Regions from separate parts of the Homo sapiens genome. Here regions 1, 3 and 4 are each reported to be linked to region 2. Evidence: microRNA targets listed by miRTarBase, many of them from high-throughput screens and not tested one by one. Region 2 holds a microRNA gene; each other region holds the end of a gene's coding sequence.
What was found. The annotated mature microRNA hsa-miR-33a-5p reads GUGCAUUGUAGUUGCAUUGCA and lies in region 2 at 4,276-4,296, opposite strand. An mRNA with a match to its seed (bases 2 to 7 or 8) in the 3' UTR can be bound and repressed. Matches are read on the target gene's strand: a 7mer-m8 pairs with bases 2 to 8, a 7mer-A1 pairs with bases 2 to 7 and ends in A, and an 8mer does both.

Region 1 (7,121 bases), not on the chromosome of region 2:
TTCCTAGATACTGTTCATTTTCAAATATAAATTGATCGCTTGGCTTATTTTTATTTTTTCATAGATGATAATGAAGCATATGAGGCTCTGAATTTTTCTGTAAGTACTGCTTTAGGGTATAGGGTATATTATGGATATACTGCTTTTTCTATTGTTTTAAACAGATTATAATTTGTATTTTCTGTTTTGATCTAAAAATTATTTTAAGACAGTATTTCAATCTCTACTTTTTTAGTCTTTCAAAATTATCCTTTTGTTATTAATTGCTCACTTTATTGCCTAGTGATAAAAAATGCAATCTTTTTTTAGAGACAGTGTCTTTCTCTGTCACTCAGGCTGGAGTGCAGTGCGTGATCGCAGCTCATTGCAGCCTTGAACTCCTGGACTCAAGCCATCCTCCTGCCTCAGCCTCTTGAGGAGCTGTGACTTTGCTTTTGATCCAAATTGAGATTCTAACTTTTAGTAGGGGGTTTAAGTGGCATGTGCATTCTATTTTCCTTCGTCTTATTTTGTCTTTTTCTTGTGCCTCCTCTTTTTCCTGGCTTTTGCTGTATATAAATAAGTCTGCTTTTGTTTTCTGCAAACTATGTAAGAATTGACTATACTTCCTATTTATAATTTTCACCTCACGATTACTCCTCCCCCTCCCTAACCAGCTGTTTATTTCCGCCATTCTAATAAAATGGCTCTAATCAGTCACCAATAACCTCAGATTCCTAAATTCAGGGGACGCTTTTCAGCACTGGTCTTACTATACTCCTCAATGCCATTCAGCACAGTTGACTGGCCCACCCCCCACCTTACTCAACAGCCCTGCAATTTTCTGGGTTTTGTTTGTCCTGTTATTTCCTGAGCTACCTTTCTGCCTCCTCCTTCTCCTCCTCTTTGGTTCTAGGCTGTAACCACTTCTTCTCCCAGGTGATCTCATCCACTTCTTTGGCTCCAGTTACTGTTAAATATGACGATGACATCCAAATTTCCAGTCCAGTCCACTTCTTTTGAGATCTGAACTAGTACATACAATCGTTCTCTTGACATTCCCAGTTGACAGGCACTGCAACCTCAACATGTCCAAAGATGAACCCATGCCCTTTCCCTCATCCACCCCCTTCTTTCCCCCTTTCCTCCATCCTCACCACTCTGCAGTAACATCTACCTGTTGCTCAGGCCATAGACTTGAGGGTCATTACCGGACTTTTTTATGCCTTACCCCCGACATCCTAACATCACCAAGTCCAAATGACTCTGCCTCTGATGTATTTCTTGAAACTATTCACTTCTTTCCACTGCTAACCTTCGGGTCTGGAAAACCATCATCTTTTGCCTGGACAAATAGAAATCTCCTGGCTAGTCTCCCAGCTTCCACTCTTGTCCCTCTAAAATCCATTTTCCCTGGCACTCATAAAGAGCTTGCTGAAATACAAGTGGGATCGTAGCATTCTTCTGCTTTAAAGCTTCCAACAGATTGCCCCTCCCCTTAGAATCAAAATCAAACACCGTTTTACAACCTGCAATACGTGGCCCTTGTGAACTGGGCCCTGACAACCACCCCAGCACTTCCCTTCCCTTCTTGTCCAGTTTATATTCCAGCCACCCCACTGTTATCCTGTTCCTCCAAACGCTGGTCACATTCCTGCCAAACTCCTTCCACACTCCCTACACATTTTCTGAGGCTAGTTCCTTCTTGTCATCTAGGTCCCAGCTTAAATGTGAAGACCCTCAGGGAGTCCTTCCCTGCCTCCTCAATCTGTAGTAGCCTCTCCCCACCCTCCAAGTCACAATCACATCACCCTATTCTATTCTCGCCACTATGCTTATCCCTATCTGAGAGTACATGGATAATCTGTTTACTATTTATTTCCCTCTACTAACAGAAACTCCCTGAACATAGGGTCCTTGTCTATTTTTTCACCTTTGTATCCACAGTGACAACAGTGCCTGGCATGAATAGGTGTGCTCAATAAAATGGGTCAAATGAATGGTACACTCCAGTAAATCCCTTGCTGCTGTGATGCAGGCATACAAAGATGCAGGGTTGGATTCAGCAGATCCAAATTTAAACACTGTCTGTGCCACTTATTAGATGTGCCTCTTGGCAAGTTATCCAATCCTCAATTTCCTCATCAGAAATATGTACATAATAATAATTATCTACTGTACTGAGCTGCTGTAAGGATTAAATGTGAAAAACCTAAACACCCAACGCCATGAGTAGTTTACAATAAAAGCTTAATTAATACATAATAGCTAGTACATGTCTGCATAAATCTCACACACACACACACACACACACACACTTTGATGCTTGTCTTTGCTTGGTGTTATGTTTCTACTGTTGAGCCAATGAAACCTCAACTTGTGTGTTCTTATTAATATCGTATCTCAAGAGCACAATCTGAGCTTACAACTTTCTCTGACCAGTTCCTAGTACACCCTGCACAGTTATGAGCTCTAAAAGCCTCTTAAAGTGATTTATCTCCCAAAATATAAATATTCCCCTCCAGCATAACACAATGGTTTCAAGTGACCTCTATTGCATCTACTTCCTCAGAGGTCTGTGAATAGTAAATACACACAAGTCTATATAACTATTGCATGTGTTGAAAGGTACAGGGTAAAATCATCTTTGCACTCATCCCAAAATCCTGCGAACACAGGTTAAAGAAGTAACTTTCATTATGGTGAAATAGCCCCCTTTTACAACACATAATGGCTAGAACAATTCAGTCTTTATCATTTATTATTTTTATTTGGACAACATATATACATATGTACAAAATACCTACTGTCAGAATCCTCTTTTATAATTTCATTTGATTTACAAAAACGGGACAGCAAAATAACTTAGGTCACTAATACTGTACAAAAATAAAACTGATTAAACAGTTGTAAAGATCAGTATCTTACAGTGTTACAGATCATCTGATGTGAAAGAACATCTCAATCTATCCGAGTGATGAGTACTGTGCTAAATCTATCTGCAAACTGACAAACTAATCAGTTTCTGTAATTGTAACTACCAAATAGAATTCTCAAGAGAAGCATGATGTGGAGCTAAACCTTAAAGCCAGGGCATCATTCCACAATGGTGAAGGGCTTTCTTCTTCCCTAACCAAAGAGAGGAGATATCTTAACTCTAAAACTATTAAATTTTCCAGAATATGACAACTACTTACAGTATTAGATAAAACAACTTTTCTTTCTTTTTAAACACCTGCAATAGTCTTTCAAAAATTCAGTTTGGTTAAAAAAGTAAACAAAAATTACTATCCTGCATTTGGATTTTCATAAGTTAAATCCATGGTCTTTTTAATATAAAAAGTAATTGTTTCATAGTTTTAGTGTTCAATGAACTCTAGTAGTCCTATTTGAACCATATCTTGATATAGTAAATCTAATTAGAATGCTGGTTCCTGTTTTGTGACATTTTAAAACAGGATTTAATCACAAAGAATAAAAAGGCTTGAGTTTATACGTTACATTACTATAACATATAAGAGAATATCAAATGTGTGTTTGTCAACAACTTGAAAAGGCAAGTAACAACTTTTTTGGGAAGTAAATTGTGCATTTTTTTAAAACAAGTTGCTGCATTTATATCCATCTAAGTGCTTGACAAAAGCCACATTTAGATTTACTCCTGAAACTATAAAGATTGTCTTTCACTGACTTTGCTTTGCTTTCTTTCGTTTCTTTCTGTGAGGGAAAGATGACTTTTTACAAGTTAGCAAGTTGCTAGGCAACCCCAAACTCCTCACTCACTAAAAGGCAGCGTGCAGAGTATCATAAGCAGAACCATTCCATGAGCTCAGTGAGAAATAGGCAGCCTAACCTATTTCGTATGGAAGAACAGATGTCCTTAAAACTTATTTTGGACACAGAAATTAAAATTTGGTTTAAAATAAGTGTTTCAAAAATCTGAAACAGAGGTAGAAAGTGTTCTTTATTTTTCCTGACATGTTTTCTCGTGAGAAAACACTTTCCTTTTTATCCCATGGACTGCTCCCAGTCCCTAATGTTAAAAGCAGTTCTCTTTATAGAACTACTAATACAACTACGTTGGTTAAACAAAAAAACACTGTGCTAGTGATGGCTGTTGTATTGGAAGTTGGAGTCAGCCGTGACCCGCGCCCACTGCAGGAGCCCACACTGATTCTGAATCAGAAACGAGTATGGGTCAGGTGAAATAGGTAGGCACCCTATGTTTACACATTTCAGAGCGCAAGTATAAACTAGAGTGCACCATAGCTCCCTGTTTTAAATATCAGATAAAATCATCAGAAAGCGTTACTTCTGAAGAAAAAAAAAATGTAAACATTTCCCCCATGATCACTGCTGACTCCCCTCATTTGAGGTCTTAACTACGAAAACTCAGTTCACTTTTCTGGCCTCATAAAGGCCACAGTTAAGTTTTCAGGTAAATGGCATAGATGGATGTAGTGGTTTCAGCCATTATAGACACCTAGATACAAGATATATTAGTGGTGAGGCTATTGATGTAAAAGATACAGTGATGTGATTTCATTCCTAGTATTCCATGTTGCCTGCATTCTCCACAAGGGACGATTTTGCAGAGTCTCCTCTGAAATCATTGTGGTATTTTCCCTTGGTGTTCACTAGTTATAGGGGTTGATTTTTCTGTTCCTATTTCAGCTCCCTTTCCTTCTACATAACTCTTGCACCTGAGAGTGGGAGTTTTGTAGGAACACAGGAAGGAGACCAACAAACCTTTTTCCCCAAAAAATAGGTGTTTCCAGATCTCATTACTGTTATGCACACATTCAAATAAAACCCAACAGAGTCAAAAGCTCTCTCCCCTAGTGGCATTAGGATACAATAATGATGTTAACTAAAAGCATAGGAAAATTTGGAAAAGTTAATAGAGTTAAAATTCTGTTGGTTCTTTTCTTTTTCTTTTGCAAAACACTACCCTCCTTCTCCTTCAGCATCTGTTGTGTATATTCTGCCCTCACATCTCTGCCATGATTTCTTAGGGAAACGTGTATATTGTAAAATAAGCAGATTATAACGTGGTGCCAAACAGAACATCTGCTTCTATCCTCAAAGCATGTATTTAACTTATTCATCCTCTGCATTAGAAAATAAAAGTGCAGCTTATGTTCAAAAAGTACAACTCATACAAAGCAAGGTTTAAAAGTTCTGTACTTAGTGTAACCTTTCAAAGGTTTGTCTTGATTAGTATAAATTCAGACTCTGCTTACCCATTGACTATAAGTAACTGTTTTTTGTTTTCAAGTCTTTAGATGACAGATCATGCTGGAGTAGATGTGCTCTTGCTTGCATAAAGACAGCTGTGCTATGGCGTTTTTTTTTTTAATCTCAAAAGTTAACGTGATTCAAGAGAGTGGTTTTGCTAAACAAACTGAAGCACACTCGTCATTACATTAAAAGGTAAGAAAACAATTCTGAGAGACAGCAAGCATAAAGGGCCCAGAATCACTGTGCGAGGCCACAGGTCAACTCACCCAGCGGACATATGTACACCAGTGTTGAATCTTTAAAATTCTACCCCAGTCTTGGCCTTACCCCCCTCCCCCCCACCCACTCCCTACCCTCCCCCGCAAAAAAATAAAAGGAGAAAAAAAAACAAAAACAAAAACCAAAAAACCCAAAAGCATTTGCCTTCCCTCCAACAGTCAGAGACGGGTTCAGAGAGTTGCCTCTTCAAGGGGACCGAGTGTTGTTGACTTTGATCTTAGGCTACAATGTGCTTTTTAAAAACAATGCAGGGAGAGGAAAATCAGAATATTGACCAAAGAGCAGTGACTTCCTGTGCCGTCAAGTGTGCCTCTTCTGGGGCTCAGTTTTCACGCGTCTGTTTCCTGGGAGTACTTTTCTCCTTTCGGGGTCCATCCCTCCCTGGCTTCCACGGGCAGCACCTCACAAAGCGTTGGCCAGCGCCTTTTTCGATCGCTTGATCATGCTGGGGTGGAACTCGGTGTGCCGCCGGGCGTGCTTTGTGAGGTGGTCACTCCTCATGAAGCGCTTCTCACACAGCGGACAGCGGAACTGCTTTTCCCCAGTGTGGGTCCGGTAGTGGCGGGTCAGCTCGTCTGAGCGGGAGAACTTTTTAAGGCAGTCTGGCCACGTGCAGGGAAAGGGCCGTTCACCTAAGAGAAAGGAATCAGAAAGGATACAGCTCAAAGAACATGAAAAAAATTCCGAAGGGCGGTCATGGTCAATAGTCCCTACGACTCAAAGGATAAATCCCTCGGAGATGATTATTATGTGTCCCCCTCCCCAAAATCCCTATGTTGAAGCCTTAACCCCCAGCACCACAGAAAATGACTGCATTTGAAGTTAAGGCCTTTAAAGAGGCAACTGATGTTAAACAAGTTCATGAGGGCAGGCCTTAATCCACGACTGGTGTCTTTATAAGAGGAGATGAGGACACAGACATGTGAAGACTAGGGAAGACCTTGGGAAGACAGGGATGAAGCCACCATCTACAAGCCAAGGAGAGAGGCCTCCAATGAAACGAACCCGTCCCCTGCCTCTACCTTGGACTCCCAGTCTCCAGAACTGTGAGGAAATAAAGTTCTGTTGTTTCAGCCACCCAGTCTGTGGTTGTGTGTTATGGCAGCCCAAACTAATACAATGAGAAAGTTGCTAACATCTCTAAGCAAATGAGCTTGCCATTTGGTACCCTATGGGTCCCCTGGAAAGTATTTTTTCTGTTTTATTCCACACAATTGCTGGTTTCATAAATTCTTTCAAGAGTAAAAAAGCTGAGCCTTTTTGCTAAATTTCTTGGTGTTGTAGGATGGAAAAGAATTGGCATTGGGTCCAACCAGCCTCCTACCTGGAACGAGCATTTCTCCCTGAGCTCCTGAGTGCAGGGGCCACTCAGCATCTGGTTGTTCCTGAGCATCTCTGTCACATCTTTTATTGATATAAAATCTGCCTTCCTGCAAAGGCCATACTTTAAGTCATATTGTCTTAACACTAGAAGTAAGTTTGTGCCAGGTGTGTAATCCCTCACGCCTGTAATCCCAGCACTTTGGGAGGCTGAGGCGGGCAGATCACCTGAGGTCAGGAGTTAAGAGACCAGCCTGACCAACATGGTGAAACCCCACCTCTACTAAAAATACAAAAATTAG
Region 2 (7,121 bases):
CCACATGACCTGGCTCGAGCTTCTGCTTCTATGCCTGCACCTGTGCTGGGACGCCACCCCAACCCTCCTTCCCTGATCACAGCATGACCCATGACCACCCCAACCCCTGCAACCCACCAAGGGCGGCCTCGGGCTTCTTTCATTCTCAGAGAGGCGAGAGGTGTGCTGGGCACCAATGCCAGATGTGGGAGCTGGGCTGGCCCCTCTTCTCCTCTCTTCCTAGGGCGCAGGGCCTGGCCCAGCCTGTGAGCTGGGGAGGGGTGGACTCACCGTGCTTGGTGCTCTGCGTGGTGCGCCGCCGCAGGCTGTGTTCCAGCAGCTGGTGGGTGCGGGTGGGGCTGGCTCCTGCCATCAGGCGCACGGTGGCTTCATGCAGGAACACCTGGGGAGGTGCCGGGGTGACATCCATCACACCCCTGGTCCCCACCCATCTATGCCCAGGGTAGCTCTCCCTGAGCCATCTCGCCTGCCACCTCATGACATCCCTTCCCACACCACCCTGCCTTGCTCACCCCTGAAAAGCAACCTCTGTTGTCCCGTACTCTGACCCTGAGCCAGGCAGGAAACCTGGCTGAACAGCAGGAGCAGGATGAGAGGAGAGAGAGGCAAAAGGCCTGCTTTTCCCAACTGGTGACAAGAAAGCCCTGGACGCACCTCGTGGGGCTGGTAGACAAGTGCCCTGGGTGAAGCCCCAAGGCCCTGGAGGCTGCCTGCAGTTTGACAAAAGGACAGGTGTGACAGGGACAGAGGGGTGAGGAGGGACAGTTGGGCTGGTACCAGAGAGGTTTGGTATCCTCTTTCCGTATCTTTAGAAAGGAAGAGAGTCTAGAGGTGTGCGGGTAAAGTCTGCAGCGCTTAGGTATGAGCCACTGGTGGGTGAAGGGCAAGGCTGAGGTCTGTCATTTCTTAAAATCTCAAGCTCTTTTTGATGCCTTTATATCTCAGTCTTCAGGGAGGGTCTTCAGTGCTGCCAAGTGGATTCTGGTCCTGGTAGGCAATGGGGAGCCGCTGATGGGCTCTCAGCAGGGAGCAGCAGAATGGAAATGGTATTTAAGAGGAGGCCTTTGGACCAGGCGAGGTGGCTCACACCTGTAATCCCAGCACTTTGGGAGGCCGAGGCAGGAGGACAGCTTGAGGCTAGGGGTTTGAGACCAGCCTGGGCCACATAGCAAGACCCCATCTATTATGAAAAAAAGGCCACTGATGCCAGCCATGCTGTGAGCAGACCAGAGAGCTGACCAGAGTGGGCTCCAGGAGGCAGGGGTGCCGCTCCAGGCCTGGGGTACATGCCCTCTTCTCCACAGTAAGGAATGGCTCTCCGATGATACTGTCTGTTGTGTCTGTCTTGGCTTGCTGCACACAGTGGCCACAGTGCAACCCTGGGTGGGCCCCGCAGCACCTCAGGGTGATGGGTGTGGGGGCTGAATCCCAAGCTCCACGGCAGCAGCCTCGCTCTGAGGCCTTCTTCCAGCCCAGCCCGTGCCCCCTCAATGACACTTGAGTCATCTCACTCAAATTTTTAGAAAAAAATACAGGTACAAATATGTTGAATACATTATATAGCAATACAAATAAACAAAAAAGGAAATAGCTGGAGCCTGGCAAGCCCAGTCATAGAACTTTCCTCCGTGACTTAGTTCAGATCACGTGGCCACTGCCAAGGGGATGTTACCCAGCAGCAGAACCGAAGCCTCTAGCTACTGTGAAAAAGAATGAAAGTCAACGTGGAGCTCGGGACCAGGCCAGGAGCCCTGACTTGCCACCATTGCCCTCAGAGCCCTCCCACCCAGCATGTGCCTGGGGAGGCACAGCTCCCTGCTGGCCCCTGTCTGTGGCAGCAAAGTGTGGCCTGCTCCCTGCTGAGCTCCAGGGCCAGGCATACAGCAGGCACTCAACCAATGTGTGCTGAACACAGGGACACATGGCGCCTAGCCCAGTGTTGGGCACGAGCCAAGCAGGTGCTCGACAGGTCACCAGGCTGACCTCAGAGGGCCAACTCCACAACCACATGCTGGTGCCCATGCTGGGTTCTGGGCTCAGGCCCCACAGGCTCCAATCTGCCCTGCCCCACCAGCCAGCTGGGCCTCACCTTGCGGTATGCTGGGCGGAAGCTGTGTGCCAGCCTGCGCAGGCTGCCCAGGTCCCGTTGGAAGCCCGCCAGTTCAGCGCCTGACGCGTGGTAGGTCTCCCCCACAGCCTGGCTGGCACTGGCCTGTTTTTGCCAGAGCGCTGTCCGTAGCGACAGTAGCAGGTCACAGGTGAGCAGCTGGACCACCTGTGGGGTCAGCCACGAGAGAGGGGAGACAGGTGACTGGCCCATCCCTGAGGCAAGGATCCTAGCACCTACCAGGCCTCTCCCCAGACCAACACTCAGCAGCTCTGGGAGGAAGTGGAGAGCCCCAGAGTCTGGTGAACTCCGCAGGACGTGAGGGAACAGCTCAGGGGAGAACCAGTTCCTTCCATGGCCCCAGGAGGTGGGAGACAAGCCCTCCCCATTCTGCAGGTGAGAAAGCAAGGCTCTGACAGGGACAGCAGCTTGTATAGGGAATACAGCACAGGCAGGTGGCAGGGGCAGAAATAAAACCCTTGTGGGTTGAAGGCGCAGGTTCTTCCACCCCATGGGAGTCCCACCATGGCTGGCTAGGAGGCTGAGATACCCACAAGGTACCAAGGAAAAGCCTGAAGTGGCAGCAGAGCCTGTCGATGGGGCTGGGGGAAGGAGGAGGAGGAGTGGGAGAGGGAGACAGGTGTCTCAGAAGACAGAACCACAGAGTGCCTTAGTGCTTGGGGACTAGGCCTACTGACCCGGCTTTGCCACTTACTAGCTACATGACCCTGGCATAGGACTTAGTCTCTCTGAGCCTCAGTTTCTTCATTCAAAAAAATGTAAATGGCACCATCACAGGGCTGTTGTATCATATGAGAAGGTACTGCATGTGGGCCATGCATACTCTCTGCCTACGACCTATGGGGCTGGGCTGCCCACCCGGCTCGCAGTGGCACACCTGCACGACACCGAGCAGTGAGGAGTCCTTGTTGAGATGGGCCGCAAGCAGCCCTCCGGTCCTGATGAACTCCCTCAGGCTGAGCCTCATCTCACCCAGCCCTGGCTTTCCTCCTTCCCAGGACACTGGGCCTGAGGAAGACCCTGCCCTGTCCCTGCACAAGGCCTTGATCCTTGCCTACACTGTTTTCTGGCTGTTGTGTGCTTCAAGGGGATGTGGAAAAGGATCCCTCTCCTCAAAACCTGGCACTTCTAAGCTGTGCATGCTGCAGAAGCACCTGTGGGCATGGAGGCAGCAGGCCTATGTCTGGATTCTGCCCTCCGAGGGCCATCAGGCTGCATGGCGTTGTCTTCTAGGCTCACTTTCCTACCACAGAGCTGCTACCAAGGAACCCCAGTCCAAAGGGTGGCTGCAAGCCTCTCATTCCCCAAACTGAGCCTGTACTGTTTGGTTCTCTCATGAAGACAAATACGGAAGAGACTAATGGAAAGCCCAAAAGAGAAGGTGAAATGTGGCTCACCATCTGCCTTTGGTCTTGGCAGCCCAGGGCATTTGGGCACCCCCACCAGCTTTTTTTTAAAGATGGAGTCTCGCTCTGTTGCCCAGGCTGGAGTGCAGTGGTGCAATCTCGACTCACTGCAACCTCTACCTCCTGGGTTCAAGTGATTCTTCTGCCTCAGCCTCCTGAGTAGCTGGGATTACAGATACATGCCACCACACCTGGCTTATTTTTGTATTTTTAGTACAAACGGGGTTTCACCATGTTGGTCAGGCTGGTCTCGAACTCCTGACCTCAGGTGATCTGCCCACCTCAGCTTCCCAAAGTGCTGGGATTACAGGTGTGAGCCACCGCGTCCAGCCAGTTTGGGCCTTTTCTGCACATTGCCTGTCCCTGTAGGGGCTGCCACGCTGTCCTGGGTTCATCCCAGTGCCCAGGTCCACTGACAATATCTAGCTTGAAGTACTAGCCTAGCCAGCTAAGACCAAGCCCCAGGGAGTGGCTGAGAATCTGAATCTCCAGGACTCTCCCGGTCCCTCCCACTCTGGAGCTAAGGACATGTTCCCCGTAGACCAGGTGATGCTCCACTTTCAGCTGGGTGCCCTCCTGTTTCCTGGGATGGCTGTGACTTGGGCCCCAACAGTGGCAGCAGTGCCCTCTATCAGGATCCCCTCCCCCACCTGATAGGGCCTTCAGTCAGGGCAGTCTCTCGAGGGCCAGGCAGGCCTCTGTGATGCACTGTGGAAACATTGCATGGGTACCACCAGAACATGCAATGCAACTACAATGCACCACAGCTGCCCGCCAGGAGGTATGCGGCCAGCCAAGGAGGTGCCCAGGGTGGTCTTCAGCTCTGTTTGTGTGCCCGAGGGGGCAGGAACCCACTCCAAGGCTGCCTGCAGAGGCCTGGGAAGTCACGCAAACCGCTGGAGCAAATGCAGGTGAACCCCTGGCCAGCTGGGGTGCACCTGGGCTTACAGAGGCTATGGGCCAGCAGGACCTGGGACTCTGGGAGCCTAAGAAAGGTGCAGGTAGAAACACACTTGCCTCAGAGGCTGAAAAGGGATGAAAAAGGAGTCCACCTAGGCCAATAAGCCGTAACTTTTTTGAAAGGGGGCTGCTGTCCTGGTTTCTCTGTCTTTCGGATGGCCCCACCCGCAGGGTCAGCATGAGGTGAGTGGGAGTGTTCTCGTAAACCAGTGCAGAGCACCTCCCCCAGGGGCCAACTCAGCTCCCACTCACGTGGTTGAGGGCAGGGTCAGAGGTGGCCCCACTGACGTTGAGGCTGCTCCATAGGTGGCCACTGGCCCTCTCGCAATGGCAGAAGGAACTCTGCTGCCCATCTGCTTTCCCAGGGAGTGAGGCATGCATGGCTCTGCAGGCATGGAAGATGGCCTTCACCAGGGGGCTCCTGCAGCAGTGACAGGGAGTCGAGAGGCAGGTCACTATGTGTCACCTGCGTGACAGGCAGAGGGGCCCAAGCCAGTGACTGCCACGCCCCACACTGATATGACATGTGCATCTGTTGACTCCAATGCTGCCACTATGGCACCATGCCACCAGCTCCAGATCTGAAATGCCAGCCCTGAGCTAGGGTTAGCGCCCCACCCTTTAGCACCTTCATTCAATGCTGGAAGTCAGAGACACAGGCTTCACCATCACGTCTGCTGCTAAGAAGCCACCCAAGATAGTCATTCCAACGTGTGCCTCAGTTTCCTTACCTATAAAGTGGCCACAATAAGGTGTTGTACCCGTTCTTTAAGGGACCACCCCCCCAGAGATGTGGTATTAAACTCTCTGGAGATACTTAGTTAGCTTCTTTCTGTAGAGGAGACTGGGAGTGGAAGGGGAGGCTAGGGATGGGGGAGGGTTCTCATAGCATCCTAGTCCCTGAAAAGCAGAGGGACCCAGGGGTAAGTGAATCCAGCAGGCAGCAGTGCCTGCAGGGGTGTCTTGGCTGTCCATGGAAGCTCTGCTGCTCTGGAGCGAGGTGACTTTGGACAACTTACCTGCTGAGTCTCAGTGTCCTCAGGCACATCGACTGGGGGAGACACACATACAGGTGGAATGCTATACCGGGCTGGGTGCTTACCTAGTCAGAGTGCTTACAAATGGGGCTACTTCAATGAAATTAGGGTGTCACATCTACTTCAGGGAACAAAGGACTTCAAGCCTGTGTATACTCACTCTTCTCAGCTCCTTCCTGTGCGCCGGTTAAGGGTCTGCTTGATAGGAAATGCTACAGCCTTGGCTCTAAGGATAGGACCTCGTGGGGCCTTTCTGTCTTGGAGCATTTTACAGTTTCTCTTAGAATACTCAGATCCAATTAGAAACAGCCGGGGAGTCAGCAGGCAGGGCTGCCCATCACTAGTGCCGAATGCCCCCAAGACGCAGACATGAATCTCCAAAGAGGAATGTCAAAAGCTCTCCGGTTATGCCATGTGCTAAAGGCTATTTTAGTTACAGGACAAAGTTGCCAGGGTTGATGGTGGGGGTGGAGGTGGCTGGAAGGAAAGTGGATAAAATGCTAGCACACAGGGGCAAGATGCTCCAGTGCACATGAGTTTTGGGGGCAACAGTGGCCTCTCTGCACTGATTGTGAACCACCAGTGCCTGCCTCCACCACAAAGCTTCTGAAGATGCTGGGGGCCACACTGCTCTCGTCTCTTCTTTTCAGCCTGTGGCGCCATGAAGGCTGCAGGGAGGAGGACCCGGACACAGTGCTGACAGCTGCTGGGACAACTGTCGTGTTGTGCAGAGCAGGACACTTGCACAGAGGACCTGCTGGCCCAACTTGAGTTCTCCATGGTGCCCTCACCCCCGACTTTTCTAGCCGCCCACCTGTCATGCAGTCCTGACCCTTCACCCCAACACGCCCACCCAGTCCAGTTTGCTCCTGCTAACTCAAACAAGATTCCCCTGGAGAGAAGCAAGTGAGTGGCCAAGGAGGGTTACGCACTCTGTCACTTCCAGGGCCTTGGGGATGCGTTCCACTTTGGTAAAATGAGAGCGCACAGCTGCATCGTCTCCCTGGAGCCAGCTGATGGCCACAGTGATTGCAGACGTCCACCACCGACAGATGATGTCTGGACCTAGAGGAGAACAGCACCAAACGCACTCCAGCACCCACAGAAACGAGACCTGTGGCGCTCAGAGGCTGCTACACTTCCTTCCTAGGAGATGGGTAACATCTTTGCCTGCTGGGAACGGGCCAGCAGCCTCTGGGCTCCCACACCCAGGATTCTGGGGGAGGGGAATAGACCAGCACAATCTTGGAAAGTGTTTGGCAATATATATCAAGAGCCTTAAAAATGTTCATTCCTGGTTGGCCGCGGTGGCTCACGCCTGTAATCCCAGCATTTTGGGAGGCTGAGGCAGGTGGATCACCTGAGGTCAGGAGTTTGAGACCAGCCTGGCCAACATGGTGAAACCCCCTCTCTACTAAAAATACACAAAAAAATTAGCTGGGCATGGTGGCGGGTGACTGTAATCCCAGCTACTAGGGAGGCTGAGGCAAGAGAATCGCTTGAACCTCGGTGCGGGCGGAGGTTGCAGTGAGCCGAGATCGTGCCATTGCACTCCAGCCTGGGCAACAAGAGTAAGACTCCGTCTCAAAA
Region 3 (7,121 bases), not on the chromosome of region 2:
TGGCCATGCCCGACACTGCCCAGACCTTTGTGTTGTCTGGGTTGATGCCCATGCTGACATCAACACACCCCTTACCACTTCATCAGGAAATCTCCATGGACAGCCAGTTTCATTTCTCCTCAGAGAACTACAGGATAAGGTCAGTGGGCCAAAACGAAAAGAAAGGTGAATGGCTTGCAGGGTTTTGCTGGAGTTGGTCTAGTTCAGTTAAGATTTTGGTGAAGGGTGGGTTGAGTGTGGATTACCACTCCTTCATTTGTTCATCACTATTATGGACCAGGCAGTCTGCCAGATGCTAGGGGTATAAAGACTAGACATAGTCTCTGTTCTTTGTAAGAAAGCAAGGAGGGGGTAGTAACAATAGCGACTGATATACCCACAGCCTGAGGACTTCTTGGTTAGAGGCTCCCAGGCCATACTCTCAGACACACTGATCTAGAAGACAAATAAAACCATGACCTCTGGGTAATATTTTCCTGAGCAGTTCAGAATATATGGGAGTCCATGTTAGGCACAGACTAGAATCTGTATATCCCTCCCCTCAGTGAGGGACCAAGTCAAACCAGGACACTACAAAGATTATTCATTGGGCGGAAGTCCTGTGTCGGCTGTTGGCAACTTGAGATGGCAACCAGGTTATGCTTCAAGAACCAATCTGTAAACAAGTCAGTAATGTGCAATGGGATAGAAAAGGGCTAATCAGCAGTATTCCTGCTACTAGGTAAGTTAATGAGAAACCAAGACAACCTTAGAGATTTTATTCGTCTTGAGAAAGCAATACTGTGTTCCTCAGCTGCCCTTCTGAAACATTTCCACCTTGTGTCACTTCTCCTTCCCAGATCAAGTGTGTCCTGTGTTGCTCTAAACTTACCCTGTGGGTGGCAGAAGAAAGCAGATTGCATACCCACGGACGCACATGATAATGATCTTGGTGAGAACAAGAATTCTTGATTAATCCTGTCCATTTCTCCCTTTCATAGGTACCACAACTCCCAGGATTTTCCTGGATCAAACCTTGTATCTCTTCTGCAAGTATTGTGTATATTGGTCTGAGAGACGTGGACCCTCCTGAACAGTAAGTTGATGCATTTGGCTGAAGTTTAGGGCCTGTCCTAGCCAATTATGTTCTATTTGAAAGGCTGATGCTTAACTTGGTCTATTGCAGGTCACTACAACAAACCCACCCTCTCCCCCAAATACATATTTGTTAAAAATGCTCTTTAAACTAAGGACTCCTCCCTTTATATCTCATCACAGTTTTATTTTAAAGAACTATGATATCCAGTATTTTTCCATGAGAGATATTGATCGACTTGGTATCCAGAAGGTCATGGAACGAACATTTGATCTGCTGATTGGCAAGTAAGTAACTATAACTGATGTCAGGGCAAACCCCCAATGGGCAACACACTTTTAGCCTGTTTCTTGAGGACAGCAGCTTTACTTTTAAAATACAAAGCAAAAACATACACATAATTTTAAATAGTTCAGAAAGGCAAAATTTGAAACACAGGTCATATTCTTCCTCTGGGGTTTTTGGGAGGAGGTTTCCTCTAAATCATTGCCTAGATCTTCTGTCTCATGAATTTTTCTTTATCTCCATCTTTAATGCTTATCTTCTGAGATGACAAGCATTTATTGTTTCAACTGTCCCATTCTTCCCAGCCTCACGATTGTTTCATCTGAGTTTTATATTAAGCAAATCTTGGCAGTGTAGAAAGATGGCAGATGAATACTAATCAAATGGTAATTTTAAGAGCATTTTCCCAATACCAAGTCTTTACTTCTGGGTGATTAATGTCAGAATTGTTATCTGGTAGTATGTCATTTCATAAGCTGTTAAGAAACTTAGTTGTTAGCTTCAGCCTTTGGACACTGGGGCTATAATGAAGTTAGAAATGGAAGATGTTAAAACTGCAGACCTAAAATTAGAGTTCACTTCAGCTGCTGTTACGTTCAGAGAATAAGAGCAACCATAACTTACATCAAGCCAATTTAAATTAGACTAATTTAAATTGTCTAATTAAATTGTCTCTAGATGAGAGCCCAATCTCATCTAGAAGTGAAGAAATCTCTCTATTGACAGTTATTAGTATAAGAGGTTCTAATACCCAGTGTAAGGCAGAAATATACATTGGAGTTAGTCTGTCTGAGGTATGCAGAACAAATGGCAGTATCATGAAGTGGTATGTAGGAAGTTAATATTGCCAATCTCAGTAACTTCCAAGAATAGGAAGCCTGGAAATGTATTAACAGCTTTATTAACAAAGTACTAGGACTAATAGCAACAAAATCAAGGAGTTGCAACCATAAGAAGGATGAGTGTCCAAGGACAACCAGTTAAGTATTATTTTAAGTATTATTTTATCCTCTTCCTTTTTAGGAGACAAAGACCAATCCATTTGAGTTTTGATATTGATGCATTTGACCCTACACTGGCTCCAGCCACAGGAACTCCTGTTGTCGGGGGACTAACCTATCGAGAAGGCATGTATATTGCTGAGGAAATACACAATACAGGTATGTAGCAACCAGGTCTGCAGCCTGTTAACTACATAGGTAAATATGCTAGAGTCTCTTGCCTGCAAAGGATCTTTTCTGCTATTCCACATCATTGCAGAGTTTGTTTTTGCTTAAACTTTTGTAGCTAAAAATTATATGGCCATGCTAATAAAAAGGATATAGTCCTTTAGAGTCATGCTTGGACATGGCTCTTACCAAATTACACTAAGGTAATAATGAGTAAAAAATTGTATATTTAAACAATTAAATACAAGAATAAATTGTCAAACTGATGCAGTTCTTTGAGTTATCTAAAGGCAGATTAAGATAAGAAGGCAAGATAAGATAAGAGTGCAAGGCTGTAATTTGCACTCTAAGAGATTGGTTCATTGGGAGTTGTGAATTTGGAGCTAAAGCTGATCTCTTGAAGAAATCTGCAAACTGGACAATATCTTGGGTCCTTTATGTAGGGTAGGTCTTGTACTAGAGCCTGAAAGGATTTCTAATAAGGGGGATACAGTTAGATGAGAATGGCTGATGGAAAGAGTACTAAGATGAATTCTACGTTATCAAGACTGGCTACTTTTCCAAAACTCATACTTGTTTGCAAACAGTTTCCATTTCTGTCAGAAAGCTTCTGGTTTTAAAGCTACTTCAAATGACCTTTCATTCCAAAATTTAAAGAACTACCAAATCATACTGCTTCAGTAACCATCTGATGGAACTAGGGTATAGATAGAGACCCCAGATTGAAAGGTTCAGGGCTATAGAGAACCCTTGACTAGCTGGGATAGAAACTCACATTGAGAAATGGTCTCCTTAGCGCCACAGCCTGCCAGAACCTTAGGCAGTACAAAAAGGCAGGCAGTACTGGTCTAATTCTCAGATCTGCAATCTTAGATGTTGCCAGTGGTCCTTAGGTTATTGGCCAGAGAACTTGGGGGTTCAATTCTCTGCTTTGCTTCCTAAAAACACCACTTAGAGCAGGGGTTAATAACCTCTAGCACTTATATATGGCATGGCTTGTCTCTTTGTTCCTATGCTACAATATTTTACTCCAAAAGACACTCATGGGGCTAGGCACAGTGGTTCATACCTATAATCCCAGTACTCTGGGAGGCCAAGGCAAGAGGATTACTTGACCCCAGGGGTTCAAGACCAGCGTGGGCAACATAGTGTGACCCCGTTTCTACAAAAAATAATTAGCCAGGTGTCCCAACTACTTGGGAGGTTGAGGCTGCAGTGAGCCATGATTGTGCCACTGCACTGTTATAATGCTGTCAACTAGATACATAAAGCAGTTTGCTTAATTTATAGGGTGGCAATAGTCTGGAAACATAAGTCATGTATATATTTCTAATAGTGCAAACTTTGATGACCACTTCTGGGATATGCTAAAGGTGCAGGTTTAGTCAGTGGAAATCAGAGACAAATCAGGAACACAGGTCCATGTGCAGGAAATGATGGAAATGCTACAGTAATACACCTGTTGGTTGCAGTTTGGCACTGTACACTCAACTATGCATTGCTAATAAGGGAAGATGCTGAACGGACATGATGGCATTCAGCACATCATGTACTATAGTGTAATATCAATAAACCATTAGGTACATTTGCCTGTGTTTCCAGACTTTATGGCCACCCTAAATATTCTTAGATACTTGTATTCCTGAATACTAGCTTGTTCAGATCACCCTTCATCCAGAATAACCAACTAAAAAGTTAAATTCTATAGAGAAGTGAGGCATTTAGAGGGGTGAGCATAGTAGCAGGTCTGGATAGGTTCTTCTGGTTTAAGCTTCCCTTCCACTTGCTCCAGGCCAAAGGAACACTACCGAGAACTTTGACACAAGTTCTCAAACCTTAACAGAAGGTAACTGAAGTCCAGATAAAATAATTAACATATGGCTGAATTTTCTCTTGATCAAGTACAAGACACTGGGTCAGTCTGCTGGGAGACAAAAAGATGTTGTTAGATGTGGAACCTGCCTCCAGAGCTCAGGCCTGCAGGGGTGAGAATGAAGTTTGCAGTAATAACTACATTTCAGGGCATATGGTGTGGTGCTCTAACAGATACAGATAACACATTAGAGTTCAAAAGTGGGAATGCAGTTTGGCTAGTGCAAGTGGCAGATTTCCTCTGCCTTCATACTTGATTCATTTCCAGGCAGGCATCTGGAAGGTTCCTAGTCATACTGGAGGTGGCATACATTTTGCCAACAAGCAGGATGAAAACCTCCCCCACCCAACACCAAGCCTTTTCCTTTTCCAGAACGCCTGACAATTATGCCTGTTATGTTAGTTGAACAGGGATGGTTTATTTCATTATCTTAAAAGGTTTCTTTTAATCTACTATAGCACAACAGTGTTTTAACTTAAATTCATGGCCAAGAGGATGAGGTGCAAGGGGCTTCCTAAAAATAGGTATTTTCTACTATAAAATGGACTCTTGTTTTTACTTTGGCTTGTTCTCCCTGTCCCAGTGGGATGACCCTCACTGAGAGTAGCAGCAAGGGAACCTGAGGTTTTGTCACACTTTGTTCTTCCAGGGTTGCTATCAGCACTGGATCTTGTTGAAGTCAATCCTCAGTTGGCCACCTCAGAGGAAGAGGCGAAGACTACAGCTAACCTGGCAGTAGATGTGATTGCTTCAAGCTTTGGTCAGACAAGAGAAGGAGGGCATATTGTCTATGACCAACTTCCTACTCCCAGTTCACCAGATGAATCAGAAAATCAAGCACGTGTGAGAATTTAGGAGACACTGTGCACTGACATGTTTCACAACAGGCATTCCAGAATTATGAGGCATTGAGGGGATAGATGAATACTAAATGGTTGTCTGGGTCAATACTGCCTTAATGAGAACATTTACACATTCTCACAATTGTAAAGTTTCCCCTCTATTTTGGTGACCAATACTACTGTAAATGTATTTGGTTTTTTGCAGTTCACAGGGTATTAATATGCTACAGTACTATGTAAATTTAAAGAAGTCATAAACAGCATTTATTACCTTGGTATATCATACTGGTCTTGTTGCTGTTGTTCCTTCACATTTAAGTGGTTTTTCATCTTTCCTCCCTCCTCCCACAGCCTGGCTATACAGTGCATCCTTGAACTGTCAGCCCACAGCAGCAATATGCTTATTCTATCCACATCCCTAACATCATGCATTCACAAGGTCAAAGTTCTGGTCCACAAACCCTTCCCTATAGAAGTTCAATGGCTGCGAAAGAATTTGTAGTAAACCAGGCCTCCCAGGATGGCGAGCTCCAGTAAGATGATAATGGAAAGCAGCAGCTTGTTGGTTGTCACTCTACAAAGAGAAGCAAAGTGGGGAGTAGTCAGAAGTTTGGATAACCTTCCTTCTAAACATTTTGGGGTTAGACCTGGGACCACGGCTGGATACTCTGAGGCTGTATGTTTGATCACACAGCCACTTAGCAGGAAGTACTCATAAGGTTCTTTAGCTGTCACTTAGGGATAACACTGTCTACCTCACAGAAATGTTAAACTGAGACAATAAAAACCAAAGCATAAAAATGGATTCTGAAATGTTGTTCAAATAGTAGTTACTTCCTTTAAAAATAGCTTTTCTAGAAAGAAGGGTTAGCTAGAAAAAGTAATCAAATAGACATCCAGCTCAGGATGGGTCCTGCCCTAGGATAAGTAACTAGAAGCCTGGGTAATACCTTTCAATCCCTTGTAAACTTCTTCCCTCTGCCCTATTTTTCCCTTTGCTCTCCTATCAACCCAAATGGGTATGTTATAAAGGTAGTATAGGAGCTTAAAAATTTTCCTATCTGTTGTTTACATAAAGAATCCAACCTCTGGTTCTCATGTTCACTCTAGGTTTCTCCCTAGTCCACAAGGAATTTATCACTGTAGGAAAATCCCACCCCTCCTGCTAGTTCCATGAGTGGGTTGTAGTTTTGTTTCATGCTAGGCCACCTGTGCCCAAGGTCACGTACAATACCCTCTTACCCCCAACTTCAACCTCAGTGGCAGTATTTCTGCCCTGGATTTGTTGCTGTTAGCACTCGAGGATTTTGTTTTTTATTTTTGGTAAAGACTACTGTATTGGTGGCAGTTAGTACAATTCAAATATTGTCTTCAAAGAAGGACTTATTTATTCTCTATGGACTAGGAGTCCATACAGAGCTGAATGAAACTGAATCAAGTCACTGCTGTGATGACTGAAGTCAATCCCATTTCTTGGGAAATGAAACCACAGCCAGCTGATGCATGGCATATGCTGTTTCACTAACTGAGAACCATGGTGGCTCTATACAGGAGGTCATCAGCTCTACCACCCTTTAGATGCACTGGAATTCCATTCTTCTCCTGAAACAGCTTGTGTTTTCTGGACCTTTATTTTCAAAATGCCTGCATGAAGCAATGCTCATGGTCCTCTGGGCAACCTGACAGTGCCAGCAGATTCTGCAGCATCTTGACTCAGTTACTGCCCAAGAACCCTGACAACTCCACAAGGGTTTTATTTTTAAAAGTCTACTTCTTCCCTACAATATAGAACTTCCAGAAAAGGAGCTGACTCCCATGAAGGGCAAGCAGAGCCAAAAGCAAGTACTATGCAAGTGAAAACTACTTTCTAATCAAGA
Region 4 (7,121 bases), not on the chromosome of region 2:
ACAACATTGGGTTTTGTTATTTTAAAAAATAAAATACCATTTAAAAATAAATATAAGTAGGTTATATCTAGAGATGGTTTTCTAATCCAAATATTGTCCCACAGTTAAAACCAGTGTTTTTGTATGTAACTTAATTTCCCTCCAACGTGAATTTTGTCTTAAACCTTTCATCAATTCATTAAATGAAGGTTTGAGACACCCAACTTCACATTATTTGAATAAAGAATACTTTTATTTGATTCAACTACAATGAAGATGAAGGATAAATTGTGATTACTACCCTACACATAAATACGTAATATCATCAAAGACAAAAATCTAATAAGAAAGACTAATTATACTTTGTTTTTATCTTTTTTAGTGGGGAGGGAGAGGTGGTTACTATTATGAAGCTGCCTGTGTTGGTGTGAAATTAGTCTTAAGAGTTTTATGTTCTTTATATAAAGGCGCCTATTTATAAGAAGAGCCAATATTTTGGGTTTGCTGCCTCGTTTATGAGAGTGACAAGCCTGAAATAAATATGTAAAAGAGTGTTCCTGCTTGAGAACAATTCCTGAAATATAAGTTAAAATGTACTATGCCTCAACCAGCAAAATCTTCACTAACATATCGTCATACTTGGTTTAGGTCCTCCAGTTTATTAAAAGAAGTATCTGTACATTTTTAAATTTTACTAATGTATAGGCTGTAAGCAGTATTTAGGTTTAAGCCTGGTAATTACAGGAATTTGAATTAACCCTAAGATTATAGTCTCAGTAGCCAGGTGAGAATTAAAGGTTCAAATGTTTTGCTAATTATTGAGACTAAGGGGTTTCTAGATAGGGCATAATTGTTAATTCAAAGAGGACACTAGTTTGCAACTTAATAGCAAAATCTACTTGTTAAAAACACACACACAGACACACACACACAACTTTGCTAATATGGGCTTTTCAAAACAATGCTGGGAAAGAATGTTCACTTGTATCCTCAGCATCGGTGGGTGTTTTGCAGAATAAAGACTGGGAGGTTAATTTTCAAGTCATCCTTTGCCCTGAATTATGTGCTCTGAATTATATATGTAATGGTTTTATGTTACCACGGTTTGGCCACTTAAAATACTGCTTTCATATTGGCAATTTAATTTTTTATTGAAAGGTGATGCTCAAATTCATTAATCCCTAGAATATATACTATAGAGTAATATTAAAAAGAAACAGCACATTTCCTAAATGCATCTAATTATTTTTTTAAAATCTCAAAATTAAGATGGTTTTTCTGGAATATTTAGGTACTGAAGTTCTGTTTTCTTCAATGAATGCAATTATCTAGCATACTTTTGATAGAATATTTTTATAAAATCATTTGTTCTAATCTAAGCATTTATCATTATATGCAAAAAGATTTCTTGATGAGAATATTATAGACGGTGCATGTTTTTGACATTAGCATTTTATTTGGATGACTAATCTTGCAGATGTGAAATTTTAATGAATTATTCATGAAATTGCTTTCCTCTGAAATTTTAGTTTGCTCTTAATGCTAGTTATTAAACATTTTGTTTTTCTTTATAAAATTTGATGAAAAAAATAAGAGTGTGCTTCCTCAAGAGAAAAGATAACATCTCTTGCTCTTTTTTTTTTACTTCCCAATTCTCTAAGTGGATACTTTCACTTGGAAATCCTGAGGATAAGAGCTTCAGCCTTCCCTGATCATGAAAGCTTTAAGATTGATTTTAATTCTGCATTGGAAGCAGCTGGTGATAAACCTAAGGCATATGCCTAACATACAATATCAGCAGGTCAGAAAGGGAAACAAACTTAGGCTGTGGCAACTTTTACTACCAGCGTGAACAACCAGCATTTTTATTGCATTTGAGAATGCTTATAATGTCAGTAATTAGTACTGACTACACAACATTTTTTTTATTGTCTGTATCCGCAGACATGGAATGATGGAATTACAGTTGATGTCAAGGAATGAGTTTCTTTTATGCCTTATCAAAACAAAACAAAACAAAACAAAAAAATTCTTGTTACTGGCAGCACATATACATGAAGCACCATGCTCACAGTCCGGACTGTATCATCTTCATCAAGGCTTATGGGTAGCAGAGATTGCGTGAGCTACACTGGGCCCAAGAAATGCCTTCAGCATTGTAAATCTGATTTTCAGGATAAAGAAGCAAAACTGACTTTGAAGACATCCAGAATTTCAGGAGGCTATGTCATTAACCAAAAGGTACCAAAAAGATTCAAAATCTGAATAAGCACACTCTTCTTTGTGCCTTTGGAAACGGAGTTCAGCTGGAATATGGAAAAGAGAGGAAATATTTTTTAACTCTATTTTTTTTCATGAGGAAAAAAAAGCTAGTGATTTACAGCCTATCTTGGGTTAAGAATCCAAGGTTTTCTTTACTAGGTCTGACTGGATGCTGGGGATGGTGTTAGAGCTGTCCAAAGGTGGCAGGACTGGTGGTAACTCTTCACGTATGTACATAAGCCTTGATATTCCATTTTGTGGCTGGTCCAAGGGGCAGCCTAACTCATCTTACAAGACGGACTCTAGGGACAGGTAGGTTGGATCCTCATTCCTGACAGTGCATTTGTCTGACACACGGGACTACCTCCCTAATGTATGCTTTTCTTTGAGAAAAAAAAAGTAACAGATTTTCTTTACATCTTGGCACCTTGTAAAGTTTTTTTTTTTTTATACAAAAGTTCAATAGTTTTGACACTCCCCATTGTTAATCACTACTTCACTGATAAACTTGGAAAAGTGTGACCCTGGAATTTCATCATGCAAAATATTTACTGCAGCAGGAGAAAACATTTTTTAAACAACATTTTTTTTTCTTTTCAAATGTATGAACTTGTTTAAGATAGCCAGGAAGGCAGTGGTAGGATAAACACAAGGGATAGGAATGTATCAAAAAACAGATTAACACACACGCACGCGCGCACACACACACACACACACACACAAAACCTGTACAAAATGCTCCAATCAATGAGAACAGAAAAAAGAAATCTTCAACTATGTTACAGTTTAAAAGCAGAAAAAAAAAGTTAGGGAGTTTCTCCCTCCCACATGTCAGGAAATGTCATCCAATATTCTTAAAGCAAGGATAACTAAATAAAATACATGTGCAGCATATTCTGCAATTCCGTTACATACAGTAGTTTTTTTTCCAAAGCTATTTTTTTTTAGTATCGTTAATATAAAGCAGTTGCACAAAAAGCAAAGGTGTTTTGACAAACAGGTGTATGCATTTATTCCTTTTTAGGAACAATATCTAAAAAAAGAACCGCCCTCTGCCCTCCCCCAAAAAAGACAAAGATTCACACAGACACATCGGGATATATGTACAACGTAATAAACCCCATCCTAAAGAAGCAACTGGGATAACCCCCAGGGGATACAGAATCAGAATTGTAAAAATCATAGTGAAGTTTGCTTGCTGTAAAGCCTGAGAATTTTTTTTTCAGTTGGTTCTTCTGCAAGGCTGTGATACCTGCAAAGATATGTAAAATCTAATTTTTCTTTTTTTTTTTTTTTTGCTACAGTCTTTAGACTAAGCATGCAAGACATACGACTAAGTGCAACTGAGTGAAATGTTTTTTTTTTAAATTTTAATCATTCCCTAAAGGTTTGAACTGAGGTATGCGTACTAACAGTTTCTCATGCTGTTATCTTTACTCATGTCTAGCTACACATGCTGAGAATGAACTAATCTACCAGATTTTTATCCTCTTTTGAATACCAAACTAACCAGCAACCACTCAGTTTAGAAGCACAGGGCCCCCTTCCCATGACCCTGTCTGGCTACTGCCTGCACATCATGAAGCTGCCTGGAAAAGTTTTTTTTTTTTTTTTTTTTTTTTTTTTTTTTTTTTTTTTTAAAGTCTTGCGTGACCACAGACTGCCCTTTATACAGAAAGCAGAGTGAAGCTTCAAAAGTAACTGCCAGAGAAGTTTTTGTACCAAGCTTATGAGTGGATGGGAGTGTTACTTTTCTTTAAATGAAAAATGCTGACCAAAGCCTAATCGGAAAAAAAGGAAAAATTAAAAATAAAAACAAACTGAAGGATATATGCCAAGATAAACCAAAATTAATACAGTGATCACAGCACAGTTCTTAAACAAAAGTGGCATACAATCTAAAAATATCTCTTTTTCTAGAAATACTATTATGTAATCTAGTTCAATTATGGAAGCTTTTCTGTCCTGACTCTAAACTGTCTCCTTTATTGGATACTCTAATTGCAGTGGCATACATTCATTTTTTTTTTGAGATGGGACTCCCTTCCTTCTGTAGCTCCTTTAATATTGTGTCCTATTTTTATCTGCAGTAGCCCCATAAAATCTCTTTAAGAGAATGAGTTTTGGTCTCTGTAGAGGTACACAAAAAGAAAAAGGAAAAATAACTACTAGAAAAAAGTAACAACTTTGGTTCCATTATCTACTTGGTCTTCTAAATTTACGATGAAGGAGCAGTTCTCTTTCTCAGGTTGCAATAGCCTATCGCTTGTCATTTGCCTCTAAATTCTTTTGCCTCCTTTGATCAACAATAAGAGGATATTTGGCTTCATCAGATAAAGCATAAAACAGAGAACATAATTTACCTTTGTGTAATATCTTTGGTAATTTTAGAAAAAAGGTACAAAGAAAGAATATAAATTAAGCTTCGAAAGGCTCTCGAACTAAAAAAAACTACAGTCCTATATAAATAAATGACAGGAAAGTGGGTGCAGAGCTGAAGTGTGGAGGGGTTCTAAGGACTGAGGTTGTACTGACCTGTAACCATCACATTTCTGCATACCATGTTTGGGACCCCCCCAAAGCCCAGGGCCTACATGATATCTTCTATGAGTTTTTGTGATACTGGGTTGGTGATATAATATTGCATAACAAACTGCAGTACCAAATTTGCATATTTGAAATTAACACTTTAGCATTTGCTGAACTCAGCCCTCGTTAACTCCCTTAACAAGTTCAATCTGAAATCGAATTTGCATTCAAACAGTTTAATGCCACCAAGTAGGTCTGAACTAATGTATAAACTCAGCGCCGCCGCCGCCACCCCTACTTTCAGGGCAGCTGCTCGGGGAAGCCGGTTTTTTTTTTTGGCCATTTTGCAAACAAAACCAACCCACACCCGTTATCGCAGAGCACCCAAGGCCCATGGCAACTTGGTTCCACAAGGGAGAGCCTTCCAAGGCCATATTGTCAGTCTAATTAATATGAGCTTTTTTTTTTTTTTCAGTGCTGCCTATGTTTCCTTGTGCTGGTAGAATGTGGTGGCATTTATTAATGGTTGCTGCAAAAAAAAAAAAAGAAAAGAAAAGAAAAAAAGAAAATCCGAAACACCCCTCCCCCGAACCACCCCCAATACTGCTGCGTGGAATGAATCGGCATTGTTCCTAGAGTTTGTCTCTCTTTTTTTTTTCTGTCATTCATTCTCTTTCTGGCAGGACGTCACGTCTGTGTGAGAGGGCCTTCATGTGTAGAGTGCAGCATTTGGGACCTTTTTGAAAAAGACCAAAACGGAATGTTTTCTGACTTTAGAGAAACGTGGTGATGTCTGAAGGAAGATGGAATGAGTGACAGAAAGCTACAAACGAGAAATGACATTCAGCTTTGTATAATAAAAACACCTATTAACATTCATCACAAGGTACAGAAAACTTTAAGCCTCCAAGAGGCCATCGGCCCAAATGGAGGCCTGAGGTCAGAACTTAAAATGGTATAGTAGAAGGAAAAAAAAAAAAAAAAAAAGCAATACATTAAAAAGTTTGGGATAATTATTTTTTAACCCCTCCCCCCAATACACACACAAAGGCCTTCCCCATCCCAACTGGAAGCAAAAAAAAAAAAAAAAAAAAAAAAAAAAAAGGAGTAAAGGCAGTGATAATCAACATGCAGTACTGTGCAAATAGGTCGTCCATTGGAATCCTTAAATTCTGGGCAAAGGCTTGGTCTGCAGCTTAGGTGCACAAGCTCTGTCGGGCGTCCTCAGTGTCCAACGTTGGCAGGACTGCAGTTCAAAGTCTGCTGCTAAAAGTGAATCAGTTTAGCAAATTTACAACACTGATGTTGACGGTTAAGAGAGGAAAATCCCAAGTACCAAACAAGTCCATCCAATGCACAGAGTACAAATTCCTTTTTTCAACAAAAAGTAGAAAAATCAAAAATACTCCCAAATGGGGTTCTTGATGGCACTAAGAGTTAACACATTTCAGAGTTGTCAAAACGTAGTGAAAATCCTCCAGACTGTACAACAAATGGAGAACAATTTCACTGCTAACTTTTGACGTGTTTTTTTTTTTTTCCTTTTTCCAATCTTCATTCTCGGGGTTGGCCCGCCCCGATAGTCACTCCATGTCCTCGTTTACTGGTTCATCTTCGTAATCTCTGTCATGGTCAAAATCTGGACTGTGGTTGGCTGTTGTCACTAAGGACAGGGGCCCTTCAGCTTCCTCTGGATCGAGGGGCTCTTCTTTGACGTGTACAGGATGCCTGGAAAAAATATGCAGAGGTTCAGTGAGGGTACTTCCCAGCCCATTGCAGCTCAGGTGCACTGAAAAGTTTGGGGCAACAGAAAAGCCGCACTCTAGAACTAGAACTCTGTCCAGTATTGTTACCATTAGCCACACGTGGCTCTTTAAATTGAAATGAACGAAATCTTACTACATTTAATATTCAGTTTCTGAGTTGTGCTAGCCACATTTATGTTCAAAGGCCCCATGTGACTAGCGGTTAATTCTGGCCAGCACAGAGACAGACGGAACATTTGCATCACTGCGTAAAGTTCTCTTGGGTAGTGATGCTCTGAATCACTAGTCTCTGGACTGGTGTGGGCCTCTCCTCCCTGGTGGCATTTCTCATACTTTAACACACGCTGCAGTCACCTGTGGGCCTTGTTGAAATGCAGTGTGTGATTCAGGTCTGGGGTGGGGCCTGAGACTCTGCATCTCTAACAAGCCCCCAAGTGATGCCGGTGGTCCTAGAACCACACTGAGTACCAGATAACAGGTCCCGTAGTGGCATCCTGGGTGGATGAATACCCATCTTCAAATAATTACACGAAATAAGAATCTGTAATGCAACGGCAGTTTGTGGGGACCACTGAGCAGAGGAGG

Region 1: miRTarBase lists KLF9 as a target of hsa-miR-33a-5p. The part of its 3' UTR that is shown has no 7-base or 8-base seed match.
Region 3: the mRNA of VTI1B is a reported target of hsa-miR-33a-5p. Seed matches in the 3' UTR shown: 7mer-m8 at 4,024-4,030.
Region 4: miRTarBase lists FOXP1 as a target of hsa-miR-33a-5p. Seed matches in the 3' UTR shown: 7mer-A1 at 4,992-4,998 and 7mer-A1 at 1,848-1,854.

Annotation. Positions count from the first base shown.
Region 1 is chr9:70,381,875-70,388,995 of GRCh38, forward strand. It overlaps KLF9 (KLF transcription factor 9), which reads right to left. Exons shown (of 2, transcript NM_001206.4): 2 at 2,730-6,131. The coding sequence ends at 5,902. Among named protein-coding and RNA genes, the nearest start is that of KLF9-DT, 29 kb to the right of the region's middle.
Region 2 is chr22:41,898,124-41,905,244 of GRCh38, reverse strand. MIR33A (microRNA 33a) reads right to left here and starts at 4,301; the gene lies at 4,233-4,301. It overlaps SREBF2 (sterol regulatory element binding transcription factor 2), which reads right to left. Exons shown (of 19, transcript NM_004599.4): 15 at 6,464-6,596; 16 at 4,747-4,915; 17 at 2,090-2,275; 18 at 271-382.
Region 3 is chr14:67,645,664-67,652,784 of GRCh38, forward strand. It overlaps VTI1B (vesicle transport through interaction with t-SNAREs 1B), which reads right to left. Exons shown (of 6, transcript NM_006370.3): 6 at 1,422-5,818. The coding sequence ends at 5,722. ARG2 (arginase 2) reads left to right here. Exons shown (of 8, transcript NM_001172.4): 4 at 1-139; 5 at 981-1,075; 6 at 1,258-1,362; 7 at 2,384-2,520; 8 at 5,052-6,045. The coding sequence ends at 5,257. It also overlaps a transcript of GPHN not described here and the pseudogene COX7A2P1. Among named protein-coding and RNA genes, the nearest start is that of VTI1B, 25 kb to the right of the region's middle.
Region 4 is chr3:70,952,894-70,960,014 of GRCh38, forward strand. It overlaps FOXP1 (forkhead box P1), which reads right to left. Exons shown (of 21, transcript NM_001349338.3): 21 at 1,815-6,498. The coding sequence ends at 6,354. Among named protein-coding and RNA genes, the nearest start is that of FOXP1-AS1, 330 kb to the right of the region's middle.